Linked DNA regions of Homo sapiens. The protein of the gene in region 4 purifies or fractionates together with the protein of the main gene of each other region. This does not show direct contact. Each region holds a gene or a part of one and is shown on either strand. Other genes may lie near its edges. The genes, in order: ITM2B, GARS1, UBLCP1, TARS1, NAA50, AARSD1 and FARSB.

The links.
Region 1: the proteins of TARS1 (region 4) and ITM2B purify together in Homo sapiens (co-immunoprecipitation; one large-scale study listed by IntAct). This does not show direct contact.
Region 2: the proteins of TARS1 (region 4) and GARS1 fractionate together in Homo sapiens (co-fractionation; one large-scale study listed by BioGRID). This does not show direct contact.
Region 3: the proteins of TARS1 (region 4) and UBLCP1 fractionate together in Homo sapiens (co-fractionation; one large-scale study listed by BioGRID). This does not show direct contact.
Region 5: the proteins of TARS1 (region 4) and NAA50 fractionate together in Homo sapiens (co-fractionation; one large-scale study listed by BioGRID). This does not show direct contact.
Region 6: the proteins of TARS1 (region 4) and AARSD1 fractionate together in Homo sapiens (co-fractionation; one large-scale study listed by BioGRID). This does not show direct contact.
Region 7: the proteins of TARS1 (region 4) and FARSB fractionate together in Homo sapiens (co-fractionation; one large-scale study listed by BioGRID). This does not show direct contact.

The regions. Positions count from the first base shown.
Region 1 is NC_000013.11:48,239,706-48,243,205, forward strand, and holds part of ITM2B (integral membrane protein 2B), read left to right. Parts: intron 1-3,500. UniProt on the Homo sapiens protein: Plays a regulatory role in the processing of the amyloid-beta A4 precursor protein (APP) and acts as an inhibitor of the amyloid-beta peptide aggregation and fibrils deposition. Plays a role in the induction of neurite outgrowth.
Region 2 is NC_000007.14:30,618,878-30,622,377, forward strand, and holds part of GARS1 (glycine--tRNA ligase isoform 1 precursor), read left to right. Parts: intron 1-2,515; coding exon 2,516-2,623; intron 2,624-3,439; coding exon 3,440-3,500. UniProt on the Homo sapiens protein: Catalyzes the ATP-dependent ligation of glycine to the 3'-end of its cognate tRNA, via the formation of an aminoacyl-adenylate intermediate (Gly-AMP).
Region 3 is NC_000005.10:159,276,790-159,280,289, forward strand, and holds part of UBLCP1 (ubiquitin-like domain-containing CTD phosphatase 1), read left to right. Parts: intron 1-1,448; coding exon 1,449-1,565; intron 1,566-3,500. UniProt on the Homo sapiens protein: Dephosphorylates 26S nuclear proteasomes, thereby decreasing their proteolytic activity. Recruited to the 19S regulatory particle of the 26S proteasome through its interaction with 19S component PSMD2/RPN1.
Region 4 is NC_000005.10:33,457,965-33,461,464, forward strand, and holds part of TARS1 (threonine--tRNA ligase 1, cytoplasmic), read left to right. Parts: intron 1-601; coding exon 602-700; intron 701-1,730; coding exon 1,731-1,897; intron 1,898-2,937; coding exon 2,938-3,100; intron 3,101-3,193; coding exon 3,194-3,331; intron 3,332-3,500. UniProt on the Homo sapiens protein: Catalyzes the attachment of threonine to tRNA(Thr) in a two-step reaction: threonine is first activated by ATP to form Thr-AMP and then transferred to the acceptor end of tRNA(Thr).
Region 5 is NC_000003.12:113,739,750-113,743,249, reverse strand, and holds part of NAA50 (N-alpha-acetyltransferase 50), read left to right. Parts: intron 1-3,500. UniProt on the Homo sapiens protein: N-alpha-acetyltransferase that acetylates the N-terminus of proteins that retain their initiating methionine. Has a broad substrate specificity: able to acetylate the initiator methionine of most peptides, except for those with a proline in second position.
Region 6 is NC_000017.11:42,954,455-42,957,954, reverse strand, and holds part of AARSD1 (alanyl-tRNA editing protein Aarsd1), read left to right. Parts: intron 1-759; coding exon 760-817; intron 818-1,394; coding exon 1,395-1,551; intron 1,552-1,634; coding exon 1,635-1,751; intron 1,752-1,982; coding exon 1,983-2,113; intron 2,114-2,730; coding exon 2,731-2,797; intron 2,798-2,987; coding exon 2,988-3,079; intron 3,080-3,500. Other genes in the region: PTGES3L-AARSD1 protein, read left to right, coding at 760-817, 1,395-1,551, 1,635-1,751, 1,983-2,113, 2,731-2,797, 2,988-3,079. UniProt on the Homo sapiens protein: Functions in trans to edit the amino acid moiety from incorrectly charged tRNA(Ala).
Region 7 is NC_000002.12:222,649,593-222,653,092, reverse strand, and holds part of FARSB (phenylalanine--tRNA ligase beta subunit), read left to right. Parts: intron 1-2,193; exon of another isoform or gene 2,194-2,807; intron 2,808-3,500.

The DNA.
Region 1 (3,500 bases), on a different chromosome or scaffold from region 4:
AGGCAAGCTAAAAATCAGTACTATTTTAATTTATACAACAATTTTAGCCCAAAACACTGAAGGCATGGGCCACTATTTTATAATCTCCTTTAAAGTGGAACGCAGGACTGGCAAATTATAGCCTATATCTTCAAATACTGCCTGCCTGCTGTTTTTCTGTAGCCCATGGGGTAAGAATGATTTTTATATTTTTTAATGGTTGGGAAAAATATCAAAGGAATGATATTTCTCCTTTTTGCCCAGTACCCTCACTGAATTGTTGGGGAGGGGCTGCTGCTATTCAGGAAGCAGCAGCACTAGCAGAATTCAGGTTATACAGTCATTCTTCAAAAGATTTAAATTTTGTCTCTATCACTTACTTTGATACCTTGGGTAAGTTACTTCAGTTCTCTGTGTCTCAGTTTTTTCATCAGCAAAATAGGGAAAATAATAATCTGTAACAATAATAGCACAATGCCTGGAACAGAGTTAAAAATTAGTAGATTTCAGCTACTGTTATTTTTATTTATTTTTTTGTTGAGAAACAGTCTTGCCCTGTCACCCAGGCAGGAATGCAATGGTGTGATCTTGGCTCACTGCAGCCTCTGCCTCCCGGGTTCAAGTGATTCTCCTGCCTCAGCTTCCCAAGTAGCTGGGATTACAGGCACCTGCCACTATGCCTGGCTAATTTTTTGTATTTTTAATAGAGACGGGGTTTCACCATGTTGGCCCGGTTGGTCTCGAACTCCTGACCTCTTGATCAACTACTATTATTAAAGTCCCAGTTTTCTCTCCTCATCATTCTTGTTTTGGAATATTACTTCTTATATTACTGTTACTGCTTATCCCTGCCTCACATGTCAGTAACAATATTGTTGGTACTTTTTTCACAGCAAGGCATTCTGGTAAAGATTGATTCCTGCAACATAAAAACCCTTAGGATTCAGTAGCTGTACCGATTTCATTTAAAAATGTTATTTATTCATTACATAATAGGTGTTAATAGAATTTGAGTTTTACCAAAGTAATACTAAATTTTAATATGCAAATATATAGTCCTGCCCTATGTCAGAGGAACATACTTTAAAAAAATTGTAGCATCATTGTATACAGTAAAATGCATAGATCATGAGTGTACAGTTAGATAATTTTAAGTCTGTATACCTGGGCTCTAACTCCCAATCAAGCTGAACATTGTTATCAACTCAGAAAGTTATCTTGTGTCCTTTTACAATTTGTTCTCCTTAGAGGTAACCACTATTCTAATTTTTCTCCCCATAGATTAATTCAAAGCAATCATATTCACTTATTAGCTTCTTATGGTCTTTTATTACCATGGTGACCACTAGACCCTCTTCTGCCTTTGTGCAATTTAGAAAAAGATCCCCTCTCTGGTGGTTTGGAGAATAGAGCATCAGTTGGTTTCTAGACCTACTGATTCCCTTGGCCTGGCATCCTTGTACTGGAAACAACCTGCCCAACCATACATGGCGATCTTAACTCCATGTTTCTCACTTTTTGCCCCAGTAGGGCGTGGTGCGGCGGGCAGCAGAGTCTTGCTCTGTCACCCAGGCTCGAGTGCAGTGGCATGATCTCGGCTCACTGCAACTTCCGCCTCCCAGGTTCAAGTGATTCTCCTGCCTCAGTCTCCCGAGTAGCTGGGATTACAGGTGCCCACCACCACTCCCAGCTAATTTTTGTATTTTTAGTAAAGACGGGGTTTCACCATGTTGACCAGGCTGGTCTGGAACTCCTGACCTCAAGTGGTCCACCCACCTCGGCCTCTCAAAGTGCTGGGATTACAGGCTGAGCCATAGCACCTGGCCCTCCATGTTTCTCTTTTAACTCCCTATTTCTCTAAATCAGTGGTTGTTAAACATTTTGCTCTGAGAACTCCTTTATAGTCTTAAAAATTGTTCAGGATCCCAAAGAGCTTTTGCTTTATGTAGGTTATATATATTTCCAAATAACCAAAAAGATTTAAGAAGACTAACAGTAACATTGTTTTACATTCGGCAGTGCCCTTTATTGAATAGCTTAATAGAAGATAGCCGGATTTTCCTATCAAATTCTTCATTCAGTCTGTTGTGATATGGTGCTTAGCTTCTGGAAAATTGCACTGTACAATTTTTATTGTATATAAACATAGCGAGAGAATGAAAGTGAAAATGACAGTTTTATTATTTAAACTAACACAGTCTTAGTTTTATTATGAAAAAAGTTTGACCTTGTGGACCCCCTGAACGGGTGTGTTCCTGGACCACATTTGCAGAACATCTATTCTAAATATTTGCTTATACTGCTGTTTCATGGTTTGTTTTCATTTGTTTTATTTTTTGCAGTTTTAGATAATACCTATTGATAATAGCTACATGGAAGGTGAATATTTAGCTTTTTCTGAATATTTACACACTGCACACATGATCTCTTCTCCTGTTCTAGCAATTTCTGGTTAAATTGATATTTAGTGTTTTTTATTATAATTAACATAAACATTAGTTACATTTGAGTATTGTAGTATACTTTTATTTTACTTCCATTCTTGTATAACAACTTTTTATTTTCCCTGAATTTGATCATGCTTCTTGGGGCAGGAGAGAGGGTTCCTTAATTTTCTACATACTTACTGCTCATTCATTCCTCAGACTCTGACAGCAGTATAATTGTCTTTCTGTGTCTTCAAACTCACCAGGTAACTTACCAAGTTTCTTTCTTTCTTTCTTTCTTTTTTTTTTGATGATTTCTTGCCCATCATTCATTAGTTTTCTATTCCAGACTGGTTGCACTCATACAAATGTCCTGAGAGTCATAATCATCTTGGAAGAATTGCCTTTGTCTTTATCACATGCTAGATCTACAGTTTCATAAATCTGAAGAAAAAGATAAATTTTTAAAAAATCTTACGTGTCTCAGAATCGTTATTCCATCCTCATATTTGATAATTTATCTGGGTGTAAAATTCTAGGTTAGCATTCATTTTTCTCTCAGCATTTTGATGGCATTGCTCCATTATCTTCTAATGTGATGCCATTCTGATTCCTTGTTTGTACATGACTTTTTTTCCCCCTTTGGTTGTCTACAGGCTGGTGATTTTCTCCTTATATCTTTTTTTTCTTTTTTCTTTTATGCTTTCAGCTTTCAACATTTTTATTGACATGACTTGTCTGCTGTCATTCATTTTCATTCTTTGTGGCTTAAGGTTTATTTGTTTTATCCCTTTACTGTCGCTTTATTGAGCTTTCAGGAGGAAGTAAACAAACATTTCACTGGAAATCAATATTAGAACTTCAACTTAGCTATCTTGATAGCTTTTTAAAGATTTGTTAGAATATTTCCTTTTACATTAAAAATTGACTTAATGATAATTAATAATGGATAATAATGGAAACCATCTGAATTACCATTAGCATTAATTTAAGATCAGACAGGATGGTCTAGAAAGATTGATGAGGCATCCTCTGATCGTCCTCTTCAAAGTTCCAAGATTGTCTCCTTCATGAGGAATTTTAGAGGCAACTCAT
Region 2 (3,500 bases), on a different chromosome or scaffold from region 4:
TAATAGTAATTATTTTTAGGATTATGGGTGATCATTAATTTCTTTACACTTTTTAGATTTTCTGGGACTTCTTTTTATTTTCAGATCAAACCAATAAAATGTTTTTCCTTTTGTATGAGAAAAGATTATTACTTTTCTTTTTGTTTCATACCCAGCTCCTTCTCTTAGTTTGCTCTGATTCTGATTTCAGATTAAACCAGATGTTGTTCTTGCTGTCTCAGTTAAGTAATTTGCTTAAGTCTCACAGCCAGTGAGTGGTGAGGCTGGGATATAAACCTGGCTGTCTGACACCAGACTCATGCTCTTAACAGTTATGCTGTACTGCTTTATAAACCCCACTGGATGCCTGCTCGTCCTTATCTAAGTGCCATTGTGAGGGTTAGGGATCAGAAAATGGAAAGTCACTGGAAAACAGGGCTAAATGAAACAAGAAGCTCCAGAGTCCCAGAGGCTCTTAAGGAGAGGGGAGAACTCCCTTAGAGAGTTTAATACTTTTTGTGTACTTTATATATTTTTTTAATAAAAAAATTTACCGTTGCAGTTAATGCCACACCAATTCTCTTTCCATCCAGAGAAGTAACCACTATCCCAATGTTGTTATTCTCAGGCACGTTTTTGTAATTTTACCTTTCAGTACATAAATGTTAGTTGACATCTGCAGTAAATTATAACCACCAAACTATATGGTTAAGAACATAAGTATACTTAACCAGTCGACATGTATAGGGAATGTCAGATTGCCAGGTTACATGTTTTTAGGCTTTGTTCTTTAATTCCTTTTGTTGTTGTTTTGTGTTGGAGTTTCTGAGCTCATATGAGTTTTATATTTGCTTGCTTTATTACAGACACCCCATGTGATAACATGTGCTTGGAAAGCTTAGTAGTTTTTTCTTTTTTTCTTTTTTTTTTTTTTTTTTTGAGACAGAGTCTTACTCTGTCACCCAGGCTGGAGTGCAGTGGTGCACTCTCAGCTCACTGCAGCCTCTGCCTCCTGGGTTCAAGCGATTCTCCTGCCTCGGCCTCCCAAATAGCTGGGATTACAGATACATGGCACTGCACCCAGCTAATTTTTGTATTTTCATGAAGACAGGATTTCTCCGTGTTAGCCAGGCTGGTCTTGAACTTCTGACCTCAGGTGATCCACCCGCCTTAGCCTCCCAAAGTGCTGGGATTAGAGACACGAACCACTGTGTCTGGCCAAGCTTAGTAGTTTTGATGGTTGAATTTCCCCAAACTCTTTGGATCAAGGGCAAAAAAAAAAAATGAATCTTCTTGAGAAGGACTAACTAGGTATCTACCAAAATAAGCTCTTTACAAACTCTTGTTCTTATTGAAATAACGGGTTCTTAAGAGTTTGTCATAGTTGGGGTTTCTATAAGAAAGCACCACATACAGAGTGGCTTATAAACAATGGACATTGATTTCTCACCGTTCTGGAGGCTGGAATTGAGAGATCAGGGTGCCAGCATCGTCTGATCCTTGTGAGGGCCCCATTCTCAGTCGCATACTGCCAACTTCTTGTTGTATCCTCACATGGTGAAAGAGGGCAAGAGAGCTCTCTGGGGTCCCAAATTCCAGTGATTAGGGCTCCATCCTCATGACCTAATCACCTCCCAAAGGCACCTCCTCCTAATACCATCACATTGGGAGTTAGGATTTCAATATACGAATTTTGTCAAGGACACAAGCATTCAATTCATTGCAGGTTCTTTGAAAATAATTTAAATTTTGCTTTTTAAAAGTATCTTATGTGTGTATTTATAAGAAAGGGAACCTGGCATCAATGTGATCATAATGCTCTTATATAATTTTATTGTGTGACCTGAACTTTACCCACTCTTATACTGAGTTTTCTTTTGTTCAGTGAAGAAAGTGAATTGAATCCAAATGCCCACATTTATGGCCAGCTGAAGTATGTGTTTAGTCAGCCATCTGATATCAAGTTGTGAGAACACTAGGTACTTCATCTAAAGAATAGTGGTTTCTGCCAAATTCATTTTGATTTCTGTTCACAAATTTGAACCAAATTTACAGGCTTTGTCTAGGTTCACATTTAATTTCCATAATTAAATTCCAGAATATGTTAGTTTACCCCACAGACTCAGTATAACAATATAAATCCATCCAGAAAGGAAGACTACTTTGTGTACAGTGTGAATTATATATTTTTTTCTTTCTTTTTTTTTTTTTTTTTAAGATAGGGTCTCACTGTGTTGCCCAGATTGGTCTCAAACTCCTGGCCTCAAGTGATCCTTCCACCTCAGCGTCCCAAGTACCTGGGATTACAGGCATGAGCCATCACACCCAGATCAGTGTGAATTATATTTTATAGGCTTATTAGCTGCCTGATATATGAGGCTATTCCCATTTCAAATATTTATGAAATTTGAATGAAGATTATATCATCGAATTATCATTGAATATATGAAAGGTTTATAATCTGCATGCATTTGTGAATGAACCCAATATAAGTAATAATAAGTAAGTAATGTTTTTATTGATTATATCTTTTTAGGGTTGGATTGAGATTGTTGGATGTGCTGATCGTTCCTGTTATGACCTCTCCTGTCATGCACGAGCCACCAAAGTCCCACTTGTAGCTGAGAAACCTCTGAAAGAACCCATATCCTTTCTGGTCACTCCAAAAACTCAGGATTCACATGTGAACATCTTGCTAATGAATAAGTCCAAGTCTTTACCTTGTTCTATGGATAAATGGAGATGTTTTAGACACTGTAGTAACGCTTGTTTAAACCTATTATTTTACCTATCCCTTTGTTCCTTTCCTATTCTCTGTACTTGTAGTCTGACGTGTGCCCACTCAATGTTTGGCCTTTAAAAGAAGCATATTTAGAAAAATGCTCTGAATATCTTTCAGAACGTTAATAGTTTTTCTCAGCTGTTTCCAAAACGCACTTCACACCTGCACCTACCTACGTGCTCTTTAAATAAAGGGTACCTGGTGAAAGCTTTTTCCATTAAAAGATGAGTGCCATTTGATAGTAGCTGAAATAATAATTTAGCTCACTTGGTCTGAAAATCAGCAAAATAGAAATTTTCTTTCTTTAGTAGGCAGTGAAGTTATGAGCTGATTTCTTAGGGGTAGGTCAGTGACAGGAAATAGATCTTGTTTTGAGCATTTTAGAAATACTTATCAGAAGTTCTTATGCTATGGGTTGGGTCATTGCTGATTAGATAATATCTCTTTTTTCTCACTGTAACTGGAAAAGTTTCTATTGATGGTGTTAATTTTGGATGAGAGTTGTCTGAATGATTTTGTGGACAGGTGTTTCATCTTGCCTTAAAATCAGCATAAACAGGATCTGGAGTACTGATAGAGAGCTGGCATGGTTTTAAGTTGATGATTGATTGTTCTCAGGCTCATTTTCTGAAATACTGAGGCAGTGCTGTAGTTTTGGATTCCTTGACTACTTCATACAAAACAGTCAATGTTGTTCAGTTTGAACCCAGTAAGGGAGCAATTGGTAAGGCATATAAGA
Region 3 (3,500 bases), about 130 Mb from region 4:
AGAACCTGTCAACTCTCTGAGGCTGCTCTTGTTTATAAAAATGCCTGGAGTCAATGTATCAGAATATTGAGTTGTTGCCCTTGGTACTGACTAGATTATTGATTTAAAATTTTCCTTTATGCTTTTCAGTATTTTCATGTTTTTTTTCTGTAGTTAGCAATATTACTTTTCTAATTGAGAGCAAAGTAGTTTGTGTTTTGGGGAACATAGGTGCTTGACCTAATTAACAAATGACAGCACTTTTTAAGAGGATGTAGGATTTTTATTCTGGATGTCATAAAAAATGACCTCTGTTGTCATATTTCTTGAGGCTTTTGTTAGCTAAAAATCCACAAAATATGGCTTATTGTATTAATTCTTATATATTTGTCTTCATTTCGTGGGGGGAGTAGGGGGCGGTTTCTATTTCGGTAGTAAACAAGATCAGTAGCAAAAAAAAATCAGGAAAGTAAAATTTTAGTAAATTAAAATATTTCATTAACATTTTTTGTAATAGGCAAGACAATAGGAAGGAAAAAGCTTTCTCCAAATTAAATTATAGGAGGAAAAAAATTTTTAAGTTACAACTTTTATCACTATTTATTTCTTACCACTTAATCTCATATATTTATTATTACATTCTGTTCTCATAATACCGTAAGACTTCTGTCTTCAGCAAAAGTAATTTTCTAGAAATTTAAAAAATTTTCTGAATGTGTAATACATTTGCATGACTAAAAAAATAGTAAAGTACATAATGAAAAGTCATCTTTCACCTGGTACCTAGCCACAATCAGTGTTATTTCCTGTGTGGTCTTACAGAGACTTTACACAAATACCAACAGGTAAGACTATATAAGAAATTATTTATTTGAAGCTTCAGTTTAAGAATTCAGAAATAAGAGTAAGAATTTGTAAAATATGGTGCTTCCGAAGTTAAGCAATCAAATTCCCTAGAAATTATGCACCTGTGCCACTGAGTTAAAGACAAAACGAGTTTTTCCTCTATAAAATATTCAAATTATTAATTGAAAAAGCCAAATACAGTTTTTTTTTGACTAGGGTGTTCTAGTTTTGAAAGCAGACTCCATGTGACTCCCAAGCTCTGAGAAGGAATGTGTTAACCAAGGAAGTCATGTGACTGCATAGCAGACATCTAAACAATTACTTTGGATTTTTAAAAAATTAAATAATTTATTTATTTTACCCAAAATCTTCACGTTAAAATTATGGAAAGTTTTATAATGGGTTTAGTTCAGTTGGACATGAACAAACCTTTCAGAAGTTTTAATATTGCAAAATGCATTGTGCTTTAAAGTGGGTTGCATTTAATGATTAGCTCACACCTGTCTTACAGGGGGAAAGGAACACTTTGGCATTGTTCTGCAGGGCAGTTTGCAGTATTCCTGCTTTTAAGACAGGATGAAATATTGATAAAATTTGAGTTAAATGTAAACTTTTATTCTAAGGTAAAGCCTCTTGGTGTTATATGGGGAAAGTTTTCGGAGTTTTACAGCAAGAAAAACACCATTATGTTTGATGACATAGGGAGAAATTTTCTAATGAACCCACAGAATGGACTAAAGGTAAGACATACTTTTACTTGTTATGTGCTCATGTAATCTGGGCTGTGTGGTAGAACTTTTGTAGTAAGCACTGTTGAATTTCATATATTTTTGGAAGTACTGTATTCTTATGTCATAGGCGAGAAAAGTTTAAGAATAATTCATATAGAAATTGAACTTTGTCTTTTTTGCATTGATGTCTCCATAGTTAGCTAGTTCATCCAAGTATTTGTTTGTTTATTTATTTATTTATTTTTGAGACGGGATCTCACTCTGTCGCCCAGGCTAGAGTGTGGTGGTGCGATCTCGGCTCGCTGCAATCTCCACCTCCTGGGTTCAAGTGATTCTCCTGCCTCAGCCTCCTGAGTAGCTAGGATTACAGGCACGCACCACCACACCCAGCTAATTTTTGTATTTTTAGTAGAGACAGGGTTTCACCATGTTGACCAGGCTGATCTCAGGCTCCTGTCCTCGTGATCTGCCCACCTCGACCTCCCACAAGTGCTGGGATTACAGGCATGAGCCACTGCGCCCGGCCCAAGTGTTTTATTTTTAATTAGCTCTGTGGGAGCAACATGGGCTTCCCAACATTGACTTTTAGCATCCAAAGTGAAATCATTAGTTATTTTTTTAGGTATACAAATCTTGGCATTTTAAACATTCTGGTTAGCTTGAGAAATGGCAGTAAGGGTACTTTGTTTTTTCTTTTTAAACTGAAACTAAAGACGTTTTTGAAAATTCCTAGACGGCAAGTACAGATCTTAGAATTAGACATTGCCAGAGCTAGAAGGAACCACAGTCATCTCTTGCCTACCTTCTTAACTTTGGAAACAGTCTGAGGTTGAAGAAGTTCCTGACTTGCCCAAGATTGTATATGTAACTGGCTAATGACAGAATTTGGGTTAGACTCTAGTGACTTGGTTCCTAGGTCAGTGACAATCTTAGCATGCAACTGCATGCAGTCTTATGTGACATTTCATCCTGGTAACAGTATAAAATTGGTAAGAGTGAAATTTGAAATTTAAAAGTTTCTGGTACCCATAGTTGATTACATGTTGGCGCAATATGAAAATGGAAAAGATAGCTCTATACTATGGCACTATTGCACATGGAGTCTCCATTCGAAGTGGCAGTCCTGACACTGAGATGTTTTCATTCTCAGTCCTAAACTTTTCTACTAGCTGGGTCCTTGGTAGTTTTAAAAGACAAGAGAGAAAAACTTAAAAGTACATTTTTTAAACCTTTCTTACAGACTGTTGATTTGAGTTTTTGTTTACAATGAGGATATTTTAGGGAAAGAATACTAATCTAGGTAGTGAATTGCCATAAGTATAAAAACTGTTGACTTGGAAGAAAAGTGGTTATGTTGTCCTTAATGGTTTCTGTTTAAGGCTTGGAGAGAAGTGCTTTTCTTAATATGTACTGCACCAGGTAAAGGTACAAAAATGTATTCTTGAGTCTTGAGAAGAAATGTGGTTGATGTAAACCTAATTGTTTGTGAAACGAATGGTTATTACCTGTTCTTGCAAGGAGGTGATCCCATGATGGTCAAGGAATAATTTTGGAGGAGACGTTTAACTTTAAAAAAAAAAATACAATCATTAGTTTCATGTTTGTTTAAAAGAAACTTTGTTTTCCTAACCAACATTTGAGCTCCATTCATCTCTTGATGCAGGGAGAGATGTTATTGTAAATGTCTAGTTCTTTATGTTACTTTACAGTAGGGTTTTTAAAAGACTGTACTCAGTAGACCCACTGAAGGAATTCCTAAAAATACGTATGTCCCCATCCCCTAAATTCTAATTCCAGAGGTAGATTTAGACACTCCACAGGCTGTCCTTGTGTGTCTTTTATTGAAAACCTCTTTTTTATAAAATTAATCTACCCAAGATAACACTTCATGAAAACCTCTTTTAAGGTTAAAGATTAAAGGTTAAGATTAAGATTAAAGATCTG
Region 4 (3,500 bases):
ACTGCCTTGCACCCCTGACTACCTGACATTCCAGCTATGAGGCAGCCAGCAATGATTGATGGGCCCTTCCCTGAGGGCTTTTGGGCACTTGGGGAGGCGGATGTTGGCAAGGAGGTAGGAGGGTGTGTTTCTTTCACCATGACCCAAAGTCAGCCAACTTTACCATCATCTATTTCATTATCAGTGTCTTTTTCCCAGTCTCCTTCCTGATACTCTTACTAAGAAAATAAATACATACATAAATAAAATGAAAAAAGATCCAGATCTTGGAGCTTTAAGGAATTTAAGAACCATGAGAGGTACTGCAGTGGATAGTTAAAGAACTGAAGGGACCCTTATTCCCTGCCACTGTTGGGGAAACTTGACTGGATTGAGGAATATAACAGGCAGGGCATGTGTTACACGTCTGCCAAATTGTAAATCAGCTGCAATTCTATAACATCAGAAACACTGACATGGTTTCTTTGATTCAGGAGTGGCACTGATTGAAATATGGGACATCATGACCATATTCTGAGCTCAAGAACACTGAAATTTATGTATATATACACACACGTATACGTGACGTACATAAACATTCTTTTGCTTTTCTTTTACCCAGGACCAAGAACTATATTTCTTTCATGAACTCAGCCCTGGAAGTTGCTTTTTTCTGCCAAAAGGAGCCTACATTTATAATGCACTTATTGAATTCATTAGGGTAAGTCATATTTATTGCTTTCTTCTTTAGATTTAGGATATGTGATCATTTTATTAAATAAGGTCTACTAAAAGGAAAGATAATCTGTATTTGAGAAGAAATATATAAGACGATAAGTAAAAGTAGAAGTCTGTGGCCTCATAAATCATCCCTAATAGTTGATTTTGCCCATATACACATAGAAACTGGTGAGCTTGAAGGGGGACCTGTGGTCCTTGACATAGGAGCTCTGTGCCCTCTTTGACTTTGATCATTTATTTGTATTTTCTTTGAAAAAACGGTTTTTACATTGCTTTTTTCCTTTGTAAATTATGAAATGTTTCAAGTATAAGTTTATAGAGAATAGTATATCCAATATCTTGTACTTAACTACCCACATTTAACAAATATTCACATTGGGCTATATTTGCTTGAGATTTTTTCATTCATGATATTAAAAAAAAAATTAGTTGTTTAAAAAGCCTCTCTTTAGGACCCAGTTTTGATCCATATACCTCCATATACTGGTATATATATCCATATACTGGTATATCATATACCAGTTTTCTAGAAGAAACTACTGTTTTGAAGTTGGCATGGATTCTTTTTGTCCATGTTACTTATATCTAGCCCATGTATTTGTACCCTTAAATTATTTATGTATTTGTGTGTTACATATAGGAAGCCTCATTGTGTATCAGACTGCCTTGTGATTTATTTTTAGAGACATGCAAATCAAGTTTATTTTCACTTGCTACATATTATTTTGTTATATAACTACCACAATGCACTCATCCCTGTATTGATGGACACTGATGTATAATTGTCCCTTATTATCAGCCATGCTGCAGTAGCATCACTTTTATAAGCCTCCTTAGGTACATGTGCCAAGAGTTTTCTCTCTGGTATATACTTAGAAGTGGGATTTCTGAATCATGGCATGTGTCCATCTTTTTCATGAGAGAGTATAAAATCACTCTTTAAGTTTTTACTCCCACTTGAAGTATGAGCATTTATTTGCCTACACATGTTTCTGTTTATTTTCTATCAGAGCGAATATAGGAAAAGAGGATTCCAGGAGGTAGTCACCCCAAACATCTTCAACAGCCGACTCTGGATGACCTCGGGCCACTGGCAGCACTACAGCGAGAACATGTTCTCCTTTGAGGTGGAGAAGGAGCTGTTTGCCCTGAAACCCATGAACTGCCCAGGACACTGGTATTCGGCAGCTTTGAATTTCTACTGAAGATTTTCACATGCTACAATTCATCCTGGGTTCTTCCCTCCTTTAACAACATTTTCATTAAAAACAAATTATGTGATCAGAAGAGCATTTAAACGCAACATCTTTGTATTATATCTTCTGCACCTGATTAGATCCCCACTTTTTTTTTTTTTTTTTTTAAAGAGGTCTTCCAACTGGAGTGCAGGTATGCGATTATAGCTCACTGCAGCTGGGACTGCAGGTATATGCCACCATGCCCAGCTAATTTTTAAAATTTTATTTCTGTAGAGATGAGGTCTTGCCACGTTGCTCAGCCTGGTCTCAAACTCCTGGCCTCAAGCGGTCCTTCAACCTTGGCTTCCCAAAGCGCTGGGATTACAGGCATGAGCCACTGTGCCCAGCCAGATCTCCAGATCTGTGGGCATTCAGTAATGGTACTGGGATCATAGCAATGACCAAGGCAGACTATAAAACAGGAAGATGAAATATGGGGGTGTAACAAATTACCTAGTGTGTTGTTGTTTTAAAGAAACCTGTTCTGTCAAAACCTGCTAATGACTCAGCATTCTTGGAAAATGTTCCTTGTCATGAGGCCGCTCTGCTTTCTATCTTTGAAAGTTGGGTGAAGAACAGCTTAAGGGAAGACACAGGAGAGCTGTGGATACAGGTAGCTTAGTGTCTGCAGCTCCTACTAGCCAGGCCTGGAGGGCAGAGGAGGTGAGAGAAGAATCTTTGTGAAGAAGCTGTATTATAGGCTAGGGGACCAACCAAGTTCATTCTTAATTTTCCCAGATTCTTCAGTTGTTGGAATACGTTTTTTAATTCTTCACTGTGGTTCATTGAGTTATAACTTATTTGCTGTTTTATTCATGCAAGTGCTTTTACTGCTGTATGTAGCCCAGAATTTGAGAAATGTTGCTTGGATGGACAGCTAGAATCAGTGGCTTTTTGACAACCTTTCGTGTAATTAAATATAGCATTACAGAAGCAGTTTTATTCTTAAGTGTCCGTGGACTTTTCTTTTTCTCTTCAGCCTTATGTTTGATCATCGGCCAAGGTCCTGGCGAGAACTGCCTCTGCGGCTAGCTGATTTTGGGGTACTTCATAGGAACGAGCTGTCTGGAGCACTCACAGGACTCACCCGGGTACGAAGATTCCAACAGGATGATGCTCACATATTCTGTGCCATGGAGCAGGTATGAGACCCTGGGAATAAAATACTTAGAAAGAAGAGTCAAGAAAGTCAAGGAAAATAACTACTGTTTCTTTTTTTGTTTTTTAATTTGAAGATTGAAGATGAAATAAAAGGTTGTTTGGATTTTCTACGTACGGTATATAGCGTATTTGGATTTTCTTTTAAACTAAACCTTTCTACTCGCCCGGAAAAATTCCTTGGAGATATCGAAGTATGGGATCAAGCTGAGAAAGTAAGTGGTGTTTTTCAGCGTGCTTTTGAATACTGTTTGAAATTGGCTTGTTCTGAGATGTAAGAAAGCCAAGCCTCTTTAAATGGATAAAAGCAAAATGAAATTGGAAATGGTTCCTAGGTTTGTGTAAGCTAGTTTTTTTCTTTATGATTGTGTATTTTTGAAATGG
Region 5 (3,500 bases), on a different chromosome or scaffold from region 4:
TGTTGCCTATGTTGCCTATCATATTGAAACTTAAAACTTAGCTGGTTTTTCTTCATATTTTTACCATGAGTATTTTTATTAGTAGTAGCAGTAGGACTTTCCATTGTATTGGCATGTCTTTCCTCCATAGAAGATAAATTTCCGGTTATTAACTACTGAATGTAATTTATATGCACATGTAGAAGTTTGAGATATACTAGGAAATGTTGCTTACTTTTGAGGTTGGCTGTTTTTATGAACCAGGGACATTGTAGTTTGAATTTGTGGGTGATATTTTTATCTGTTCTTCTCTAGGGAAGGCGATTTCAAGCAAGAAGGTATGCCACAGATAACCATGACTGAGGTGGCAATGTAATTAGGCAGTGTAATGGAAAGTATAATAAAACCAAATCATTTAGCCTTCAATTGTAGTAAAGAGGTGCAAATTAGTTCTAATAAAAAATGTCTTTAACAAAATGTGAATACGTGACTAAGATGGGAAAGTAGGTAGCAGTAATATAAATATGGAACAATGTTGACTACTAATTGGAATAGTAAAGGGAGCCATTTTACCAAATAAAATTAAAATGTAAGATTCTGCAGTCAGAAACAAAACTTTAAAAACTCCGAACAGTGGTTACCTCTGACAGCATATGGACTGGGAAGGGGCAAAAGGAATGCTTTTTGCATCTCAGCATAGTGAGACCTTGTCTCTACAAACAATAAAGCAGCCAGGAGAATCACCTGAACCTGGCAGGTGGAGGTTGTAGTGAGCTGAGATCGTGCCACTGCATTCCTGCCTGGGCGACAGAGTGAGACTCTGTCTCAAAAAAAAAAAAAAAAAAGCCAGGCATGCTGGTGCAAGTCTGTAGTTCCAGCTACTTGGGAGGCTGAGGCAGGAGGATCACTTGAGCCCAGGAGTTCAAGGCTGCAGAGAGCCATGATCTTGTCACTATATTTCAGCCTGGGCAACAGAGCGAAAACTGGTCTTAAAAAACAAAACAAAACAAAACTTTTTTTAAAGGTTTATTGCTGTTTTGTTTTTCAGCAAAACCAAAAGCTAGTCAGGCTGACGTAGCATTTGACACCTTTTATAAACCTACAGTTTATACTTCTTCCTTCTGTGAAACAATTTGTGGTTTGTTGATTGAGATAGTGAATTTTAACAAATACTTTGTAATGTGCCCTTGCTGTGTTGAGATGAATTCATATAAAATATAACCTTACACCATAAGTTTTTTTAAAAAATCAATGTACTGTTCTCTCTAATATAAAAGAAAAATAAAAGGGAAGTAATTTATAATAAAATTTATTTCAGTATTTAATGATGTGGCACAACTATGCCATAAAGCATAAGATCAAGTGTTTGCATCTATCTGTAAATAGAATCATCGTGTAATTTAGAAAGTATGTCTGCTGCCTATACAGTTGTGTGCATTGTTGACTCATGTTGTGTTGCCATTAGTGGTGTAATTTCTTCCTGAAATTGCAGACAACTCTTAGGAAAGCTCTAAACAAAGAATAATCAATACTTTCTGAGTTGGAAAAGATTTTTTAAAGTCACTTAGTAGTCCAAGCACTCATCTTATTGAATCAAGATATATTCCCTGTTTATCATAATTTCAAAGATCCTTACTTCTGTTGTGTGAATATTATTGCACATGTGATCAGTAGAGTGGGAAGTGTTACTGGGACTCCTAATTTTTTCTTCCAGGTATTGCTTATGGCTTTCAGCTGTGTGATATCTGAAGCGATACTCTTTCTCAATTATTCAAATGATTGGCCTTCATCTTTTTTTAAATGCAGCCTGCAGTAACCAATAGAATACCAGTAGTAACCAGTAGACACATTCTTCCCATCGTGAACGTGAGAGCTATATTTAAGTCTATTCAATGCCTAACTTAATGGCACAATTTTATTGTTCTGTCTAGTACAGTCGTGACTAGCTACAGTTGGCGATTGAGCAGTTGAAATGTACCTTGTGGTCTGTGGCACAGTTGCCATTTCCCGGGTAAGATGTCTGCAGTCTGTGTACTGAGGACCTGGAGCAGGAATGCTGGGCAGCTGATTTGTTTCACTGTTTTCCAACATGTAGTAATGTTCATGTTTTGAAGCCAAATTATGTGTGTTTCTTTGATTATCCTTCATTCAAGTATAGTCATCCACATAACTTTCTGAAAACAATTAATGCTGTATGTGGACAGCTTGTTCAGTTCAGATTCTCAGACACTGAAGAAGGGATTAGAAAAGTAACTGTTAATGTTATGTAAAAGAAGGAGATACAGTGTCTCAGTTTGATAACATCGGTAAAGTTCAAAGTGATAAAGCTTCTGTTACCATCGCTAGTCCTTATGATGGAGTCATTGAAAACTCTAGCATAGTCTAGATGATATTGCCTATGTGGGGAAGCCATTAGTAAACATAGAAACAGAAGCTTTAAAGGGTACTGTTAATTTGTTTTACCAAATTGATTATTGTCCACCTTTTGTCATTGGGTCTCAATTAAAAGTGACCTTTAAAAAAAAAAAAAGAAAAAATGTGCCTTGTATGACAGAACTAAATTTTAAATTTTAAAGTGTGAAAGCTCGGATTCTCAGCTGGGTACTGTGGCTCACACTCGTAATCCCGACACTTTGGGAAGCCAAAGCAGGAGGATCACTTGAGCCCAGGAGTTCAAGACCAGCCTGGGCTATAACATAGTGAGACCTCATCTCTACAAAAAAATAGTAATCATAATTAGCTGGGGTATGGTGGTGTGTGCCTGTAGTCCCAGCTACTTGGGAAGTCAAGTTGGGAAAATCACTTGAGCTTAGGAGGTTGAAGCTGCACTGCATCGAGGCATGATAATGTCACTGCACTCTAGCCTGGGTGACAGAGGGAGACCCTGTCTCAAAAAGAAAAAACTCACAGTTATTGGTCCGTTTTTATGTTTGAAACAACTTAGATATGTGGATCTACTGCAGATTTTGTGAAATGTAAATACAGATCAAATATTTCTAAGGAAAATGAGTAGTTGAATTGGGCCATGCTGTAAGTGTAGTAAACTGGATTTTAAAGACTTGGAATAAAAAAAATTTTTAAGGTAAAATAAGTTTTATTTTGACTACATGTTGAAATGATTTCTTCCCCTTGTAAATGTGGATGCTAAACTTGAATGAAAAAAAACTTCTAAGGGAAAATAAGTTTTATTTTGACTACATGTTTAAATGATTTCTCCCTCTTGTAAATGTGGATACTAAACTTGAATGAAAAAGTTTTTAAGGTAAAATAAGTTTTATTTTGATTACATGTTGAAATGATTTCTTCCCCTTGTAAATGTGAATACTAAACTTTTTTTTGTTATATCAAGGAAGTCTTCCCAAGATATTAAACATTTTAAAATTTTGTATGTCACTTGTATATCTGTTGGACGGTCCTGTGCTAAACCCATAAAAAAGCCAAAGTTGTATAAAACAGGATCTTTTCCCTTAGAATCTACTTCCCATCCCAGATGGTAGATATTTCTAAATGTTTCAACTTGT
Region 6 (3,500 bases), on a different chromosome or scaffold from region 4:
CCTTGATAGTTCCTCCTCTTTCTCCTTTTCTTCCTCCTCCTCTTCCTCTTCTTTCTCCTCATCATCACTCTTGTCAATCAGGGATGCTGCTGTATCTCTTATGTCAAGCCCTGTGCCTTGCATTTGGTAGGTACTCAATAAATACTTGTTGAATGGATGAATGCTGCATATTGGAACTTAAGTTCACTGGGCACAGTGGCTCACACCTGTAATCCCAGCATTTTGGGAGGCCAAGGCAGGTGGATCACTTGAGGTCAAGAGTTCAAGACCAGCTTGGCCAACGTGGTGAAACCCCATCTCTACTAAAAGTAGAAAAATTAGCCGGGCACGGTGATGCACGTCTATAATCCCAGCAACTCAGGAGGCTGAGGCACGAGAATTGCTTGATCCTGGGAGGCGGAGGCTGCAGTGAGCCCCTGCACTCCAGCCTGGGCAACAGAATGAGACTGTCTCAAAAAAAAAAAAAAAAAAAAAAAAAGGAAGTTAAGTTCAAGTCCAGCCCCTTATAAGTTACATTGCCATGGCAAGTTATTTGATCTCTCTAGGCTTCAGTTTCCTCATCTGTGAAATGGTATCATAAGGCCTCTTGCAGAATTCTCATTGTGATTTTCAATAAAGTATCTAAAGTGTATTACCCAGTGCTTAGCAGGTCTTCAACAAGGAGAATTTCTGTGCTTTTATCATTGTAGCTCATATTTTATCATTGTGGGAGTATGTAGGCTTCTCACTTTTCTCCTGTCTCTGGCTCTCTTTGCTTAGGGCAGCATCTCATCACGGCAGTTGCTGACCATCTATTTAAGCTGAAGACAACATCATGGTGAGTGGGAGGCATAAGACTAACTGTAGGCAGGCCCATCCCAGCACTGGGAGGGAGGCGGAGGTGGGAGAATTGCTTGAGCCGGGGAGATTAAGGCTGTGGTGAGCTGTGATTGCCACCAAATGGCAGCATGGGTGACAGCGAGCTTGTCTTAAAAAAAAAAAAAAAAAAGGCCAGGCGCAGTGGCTCACGCTTGTAATCCCAGCACTTTGGGAGGCCGAGGCGGGCGGATCACGAGGTCAGGAGATCGAGACCATCCTGGCTAACACGGTGAAACCCCGTCTCTACTAAAAATACAAAAAATTAGCCGGGCGTGGTGGCGGGCGCCTGTAGTCCCAGCTACTCGGGAGGCTGAGGCAGGTGAATGGCGTGAACCCGGGAGGCGGAGCTTGCAGTGAGCCGAGATCGCGCCACTGCACTCCAGCCTGGGCGACAGAGCGAGACTCCGTCTCAAAAAAAAAAAAAAAAAAAAAAAAAGTGGTGAGAGGGTATGCTTGTTCCAGTTTTTAGAGGAAAAGCTTTCAGCTTTTTCTTGTTCAGTAAGATATGTTATCTGTGGCCACTGTACTTCTGACAGGGAGTTAGGGAGATTTCGGAGTGCGATTGAGCTGGACACCCCCTCTATGACTGCAGAGCAAGTAGCTGCCATTGAGCAGAGCGTCAATGAAAAAATCAGAGATCGGCTGCCTGTGAATGTCCGAGAACTGAGCCTGGATGATCCTGAGGTGGAGCAGGTAAGGGTAGAGCCAGAGGGATGGTTTCTGCGGAATGATTCCTCATCAGATTCAGACAGTCCCTCCCCTCTCCTTGAGTCCAGGTGAGTGGCCGGGGTTTGCCTGATGATCATGCTGGGCCCATTCGGGTTGTTAACATCGAGGGCGTTGATTCCAACATGTGCTGTGGGACCCATGTGAGCAATCTCAGTGACCTTCAGGTAAGTGAGGAACGGCTGTGGAGTGGCTGAGAAGAGGGATTGGGGGAGAGGGGATCACATGGGGCTGGGAGTGGGAGAGGGGGATAATCGAGGAGTCCTAAGTGAAATCTCCCCTTCACTGTTTCAGAGCTGAGGAACAGATAGGTTTCTCCTGCCTTCAGGTTCTAGGATCCGCTGTGGTTTATGCATGTGCACACGTGTGTGTGTGTGTTACCCCCTTGCCTCATGTAGGTCATTAAGATTCTGGGCACTGAGAAGGGGAAAAAGAACAGAACCAACCTGATATTTCTGTCTGGGAACCGGGTGCTGAAGTGGATGGAGAGAAGTCATGGAACTGAAAAAGCACTGACTGCTCTGCTTAAGTATGCCTGTTTCAGTACCTTCGATTACCTCCCATTTCTGAGATTTTCGACATAATCTCTTACCTCTGGGAGATAAGATGCAATCGTAAATGATAAAGTGCGGCCAGGCGTGGTGGCCCACATCTGTAATCCCAGCACTTTGGGAGGCCGAGGTGGGCGGATCACGAGGTCAGGAGATCAAGACCTTCCTGGCTAACACCGTGAAACCCCGTCTCTACTAAAAATACAAAAAGAACTTAGCCAGGCATGGTGGTGGGCGCCTGTAGTCCCAGCTACTCGAGAGGCTGAGGCAGGAGAATGGCGTGAACCCGGGAGGTGGAGCTTGCAGTGAGCCAAGATCGTTCCACTGCACTCCAGCCTGGGCGATAGAGCAAGACTCTGTCTCAAAAAAAAAAAAAAAAAAAAGATCAAGTGCTTTGGATAGTAAATCAGAACCACGAAAAGTGGTTAATTCCTTTGTATGTTTTCTCCCAGTTGCCTAAGAGACCTCCTCAGAATATCTCCTGGTCCCTGACTGCAGGGAGGCACCATAGCAAGAAGGAAATTATTGATTTATGTCCCCAACATCAGAAACGACTGGGAAGCTGCGCAGGTCTCCTCTGACCTTTCTCTTTCAGGTGTGGAGCAGAGGATCATGTGGAAGCAGTGAAAAAGCTCCAGAACTCCACCAAGATCCTGCAGAAGGTGATTTATTCCATGGAGGGTAGAGAGGGCATGGGCCCTGCCTAGGATAGGCTCTGCAGACTTGGTCTTCTGCCTAAACAGATGTGTAGTTTGTCAAAGTGGGAGTGAGGGGAGAATGAGGTGGAGGGAAGCTGATACTCTCTATTGTTATCCTTTCCATTTATCTACTGAGTTACCATATCCATTTCAGAATAACCTGAATCTGCTCAGAGACCTGGCTGTGCACATTGCCCATAGCCTCAGGAACAGTCCAGACTGGGGAGGTGTGGTCATATTACACAGGTGAGAAATTAGGAGCTGGACACAAGGAAGGGGAACTGTGTTGGGCTTAGGGCTCAGTGTCTTCTCTATATGCAATGTACAGTGGGAGGTGGATTGCTCACTGGTATTCTCAAGGTTGAGTAGATCCTAAGAAATATGTTACTGGCCGGGCGCGGTGGCTCACGCCTGTAATCCCAGCACTTTGGGAGGCTGAGGCGGGTGGATCACAAGGTCAGGAGTTCGAAACCAGCCTGGCCAGCATGGTGAAACCCCTTCTCTACTAAAAGTACAAAAATTAGCTAGGCATGGTAGTACGCGCCTGTAGTCCCAGCTACTCAGGAGGCTGAGGCAGGAGAATCACTTGAACCCGGGAGGCAGAGGTTGTGGTGAGTGGAGATCACGCCACAGCACTCCGGCCTGGACCAACAGAGTGAGACCCCAT
Region 7 (3,500 bases), on a different chromosome or scaffold from region 4:
TTCTGGCGTGGTGTAATAGCTGGCAGTAGTGGCAGAACCTTCTGTGTATATCATATACACCCCTAAGGTGTGGTTACTTGATGTGTCATTTCGTTAGAGGAAATTAGTAATCACGATTTTATTGTTGATTTTTCTTTGTATAGAAACCCATGAAATAACAGCTGAAAGGAATAAAACATATGATAATTAGGATTCAGCGTATTTTAATAGTTCTGTACCACTTAGTTATCTATTACTGCATACTAAATTATCCCAAAGTTTAGCATCTTAAAGCAGCTATCATTTGTTATATAGTTTCTGAGGGTCAGGAATTGGGGACTGGCTTAGCTGGGTGGTTTTTGCTCTGGATCTGTTACCAGATTGCAGTCAAGGTGTTTGCCAGATCCGTAGTCATCTCAAGGCCTAACTGGGTCTGGAGAAACTGCTTTCAGGTTCATTCAAGTGGTTGTTGGCAAACCTCAGTTCCTTGCTGATTTTTGGCCATAGGCTTTAGTTCCTCCCACCTTATCCTCTCCATAGGACTACTTAGCACATGTTAGCTTGTTTGCCCCAGATGGAGAGGTCCGAGAGAGTAGGTAAGTAAGAGAGTGCCGAGGATAGACGCCTGTTTTCAATAACAGCTCAGAAGTGATACACTAGCCCTTCTCATATTCTCTTGATCACAGACCAATCCTAGCACAATGTGGAAGGGAACAGTACAAGGGTGTGAATACCAGGAGGCCGGTATTATTGGAGCCCATCTTGGAGGCTGACTACCACCGTTTCCCCTCTAACCTCCACTGATTCAGTTCCTCCCATATGCAAAATATACTCACCCCCTCCCAAGGCCCTCAGAAGTGTCATCCCATTACAGCAGCAGCTCAGAATCTAGAATCTCATCATCTAAATCAGGACCAGATGTGGATGTGGCTCCTTGGGTGTAGTTCCTTCAGTATAGCTTCTTTAGTACACTGTTGGCCTGAGAGACTCGAGAGACCATTTATCTGCCCCACATATACCTAACATACAGTGGTGGGATGGGCATAGGATAACTCCTGTAGCCCTTCCACTTCAAAGGGGCGGAAATGGGAGACACAAAGGAGTCATTGGTCCATGGCAATTCTGGAATCAAGTGGCAAATGTTGGATGTTCTTGATTAGGTCTGAAGGCCTGGAATAATTCTCCATGGCTGTCTGCCCTGCCCTCTAGGCTCTTGGTTTCCACCCCTCTGAGTGATCCCTAGAAAGCATGTGCTTTACAGCTGGTTGGTTTTCTCAGTCTACTTACTGCTAATAGAATTTTGAGAGTTCAAAGACTTTATTTTATCCTATTTCTATCCCTTTCAATTCTAGCTGGCAATGCTTCTGCATATGTATTTCTTCTAAAAACTTGGAAGGTCTTTGGTGCATGTTACTGGCTTCCATTTTATTAGTCAAAAGCCACACCACCTACACATCTCTGAAATATATTGAGTTTCTGCTGATAACAGTGCTCTTAATTAAGCCCTATTGTGTGATTAATTGGATTTATGAGGTGCATTCTTTATAATTTTTAATAGCACCCTTTGTTGGAATGATTAGTGCCTTTGATCTTTCTGGGTCTTAAGATTTTATGGTCATATCCTTGATTTTATCTTTGGACCATGTTTTCCTGGCAGTGCCTTGGATTTGGTCTTTGCTCAGAAGTTATTTCTTAATTTTAGCATTGTTTCACATCTGGAGAAGATGAGAATTTTTTAAATCCCCAACATCCTGGCTCATTTTTGTTTAACAGCCTTTCCTTTAGCTTATCTCTTTTTTTCACATAAGCACAAGAAAAACCCAGGTGGCACTGTGAACACTGGTTGGAAATCTTAGTTACATCACCCCATTGATTTTTTACAGTCCACATTACTGCAAGGAATGGTGTTGCTAAGCCTTCCGCCTCTTCTTAACCAGGATTCCTCTTCTTCTGCTTTCTGATAACATTACCTCACTTTCCTCCATGTCCTCACCTGCATCCTTACCAAAGACTATGAGGCTTCTTTCTTGAGGTTTTCATTTACACGCCTCAAAGCCCACTGCTTGGTTCCAAAGCCATTCCCATGTTTTTCATTTTTGTTACAGCAGTACACCACTTCCAGGGACTAAAGTCTGTATTAGTAATCTATTGCTATGTAACAAATTATTCCAAAGTATTAGTAGTCTGTTGCTACGTAACAAATTACTCTGGTACTTAGGAGTGTAAAACAAGCCTTTATTATTTTACAAAATTTCTGAGAGACAGGAATCGGGGAGTAGCTTAGGAAGGTGGTTCTGGCTTTGGGTCTCACCATGTTGCAGTCTAGCTGTCAGCTGGGGTTGCTGTCATTTCAAGGCTTGGCTGGGCTGGAGAATCTGCTTCCAGACTCACTCAGGTGATTGCTGCAGACCTCAGTTCACACAGGAGCATGAATACAAGGAGGCAGGGATCATGGAACAGGCCGTCTTGGAGGCTGGGTACCTATTACTACCTGCCCTAGTTAATGATATCCCCACCCATTTTTTCCCCCAAACCAGAGATCGGGGAGTCATCTTAGACTCCTTCTACACACTCCCTATTCCTACCTCCCATCATTCGGCCATCGAGCCTTATACATTCCACCTCTTTAACGTTTTTCATATTAATCCCTTCTTCCTCATTCTTGCTGGTGCTGCTTTAAATGAAGTCTTCACTATCGCATCTGTACTATTGCAGTAGACTCCCTGCTCCAATCCATCCTCTACTCTGCGAGCAGTCTTTAGAATGCAGATCTAATCATGTTTTTGCCCAGCCGAAGAATCCCTTCAGTATAATTCTCCATTGCCTGCCTGTAAGAAAGAGGGCAAATTGTTAGTTGACCCCTTTCTCCTTGTTCCATCATATCTTCTGATATGAACTTTATGTTTCATCCATGTTGAACTACTTAAGAGTTTCCAAATTTGCCATGCTGTTTCACGCCCCACAATCTCTGCCTAACGAACTCATCCTTTCTGTGAAGGTTTAGCTGACCATAAGAGAAACTGATTACTTCTTTTGTGCCAGCCCTGTACCTTGTACTTAACACAGTCATATTTATTTACACATCTGGCTTCTTTACTAGATGAGGAAGTAGTTAAGGCAGGAATTGTGTTTTATTTATCTTTGTAACCCTGGTACCTAGTACAGTGCCTGGTATAAGGTGGGTACTCAGTACATAGATGTTAAATTGAAATTTAGTGTCTGAATCAGGAATCTTAAGACCAGTTTTCGCTAGAATATACTGCTAATGATGTTTTGTGTTCAATTTTTGGTAATGTGAGAACCCTGAAAAGCTAAACAGTAGGATATAATATTAAAATAAGGAAGAGAACTTATTTTATTAATTGCTAATAAACTATTAATTATTGTAGACTCACTGTGTCTCAGGGTACTATGCCAGGTCCATTTTATGCATTAGCATTTAAATCTTTCCAATAGTACCATGCCATAATGGCTGTGAAATACCATTTTATAGATGAGGCAGCTGTAATGTTGACACAAGA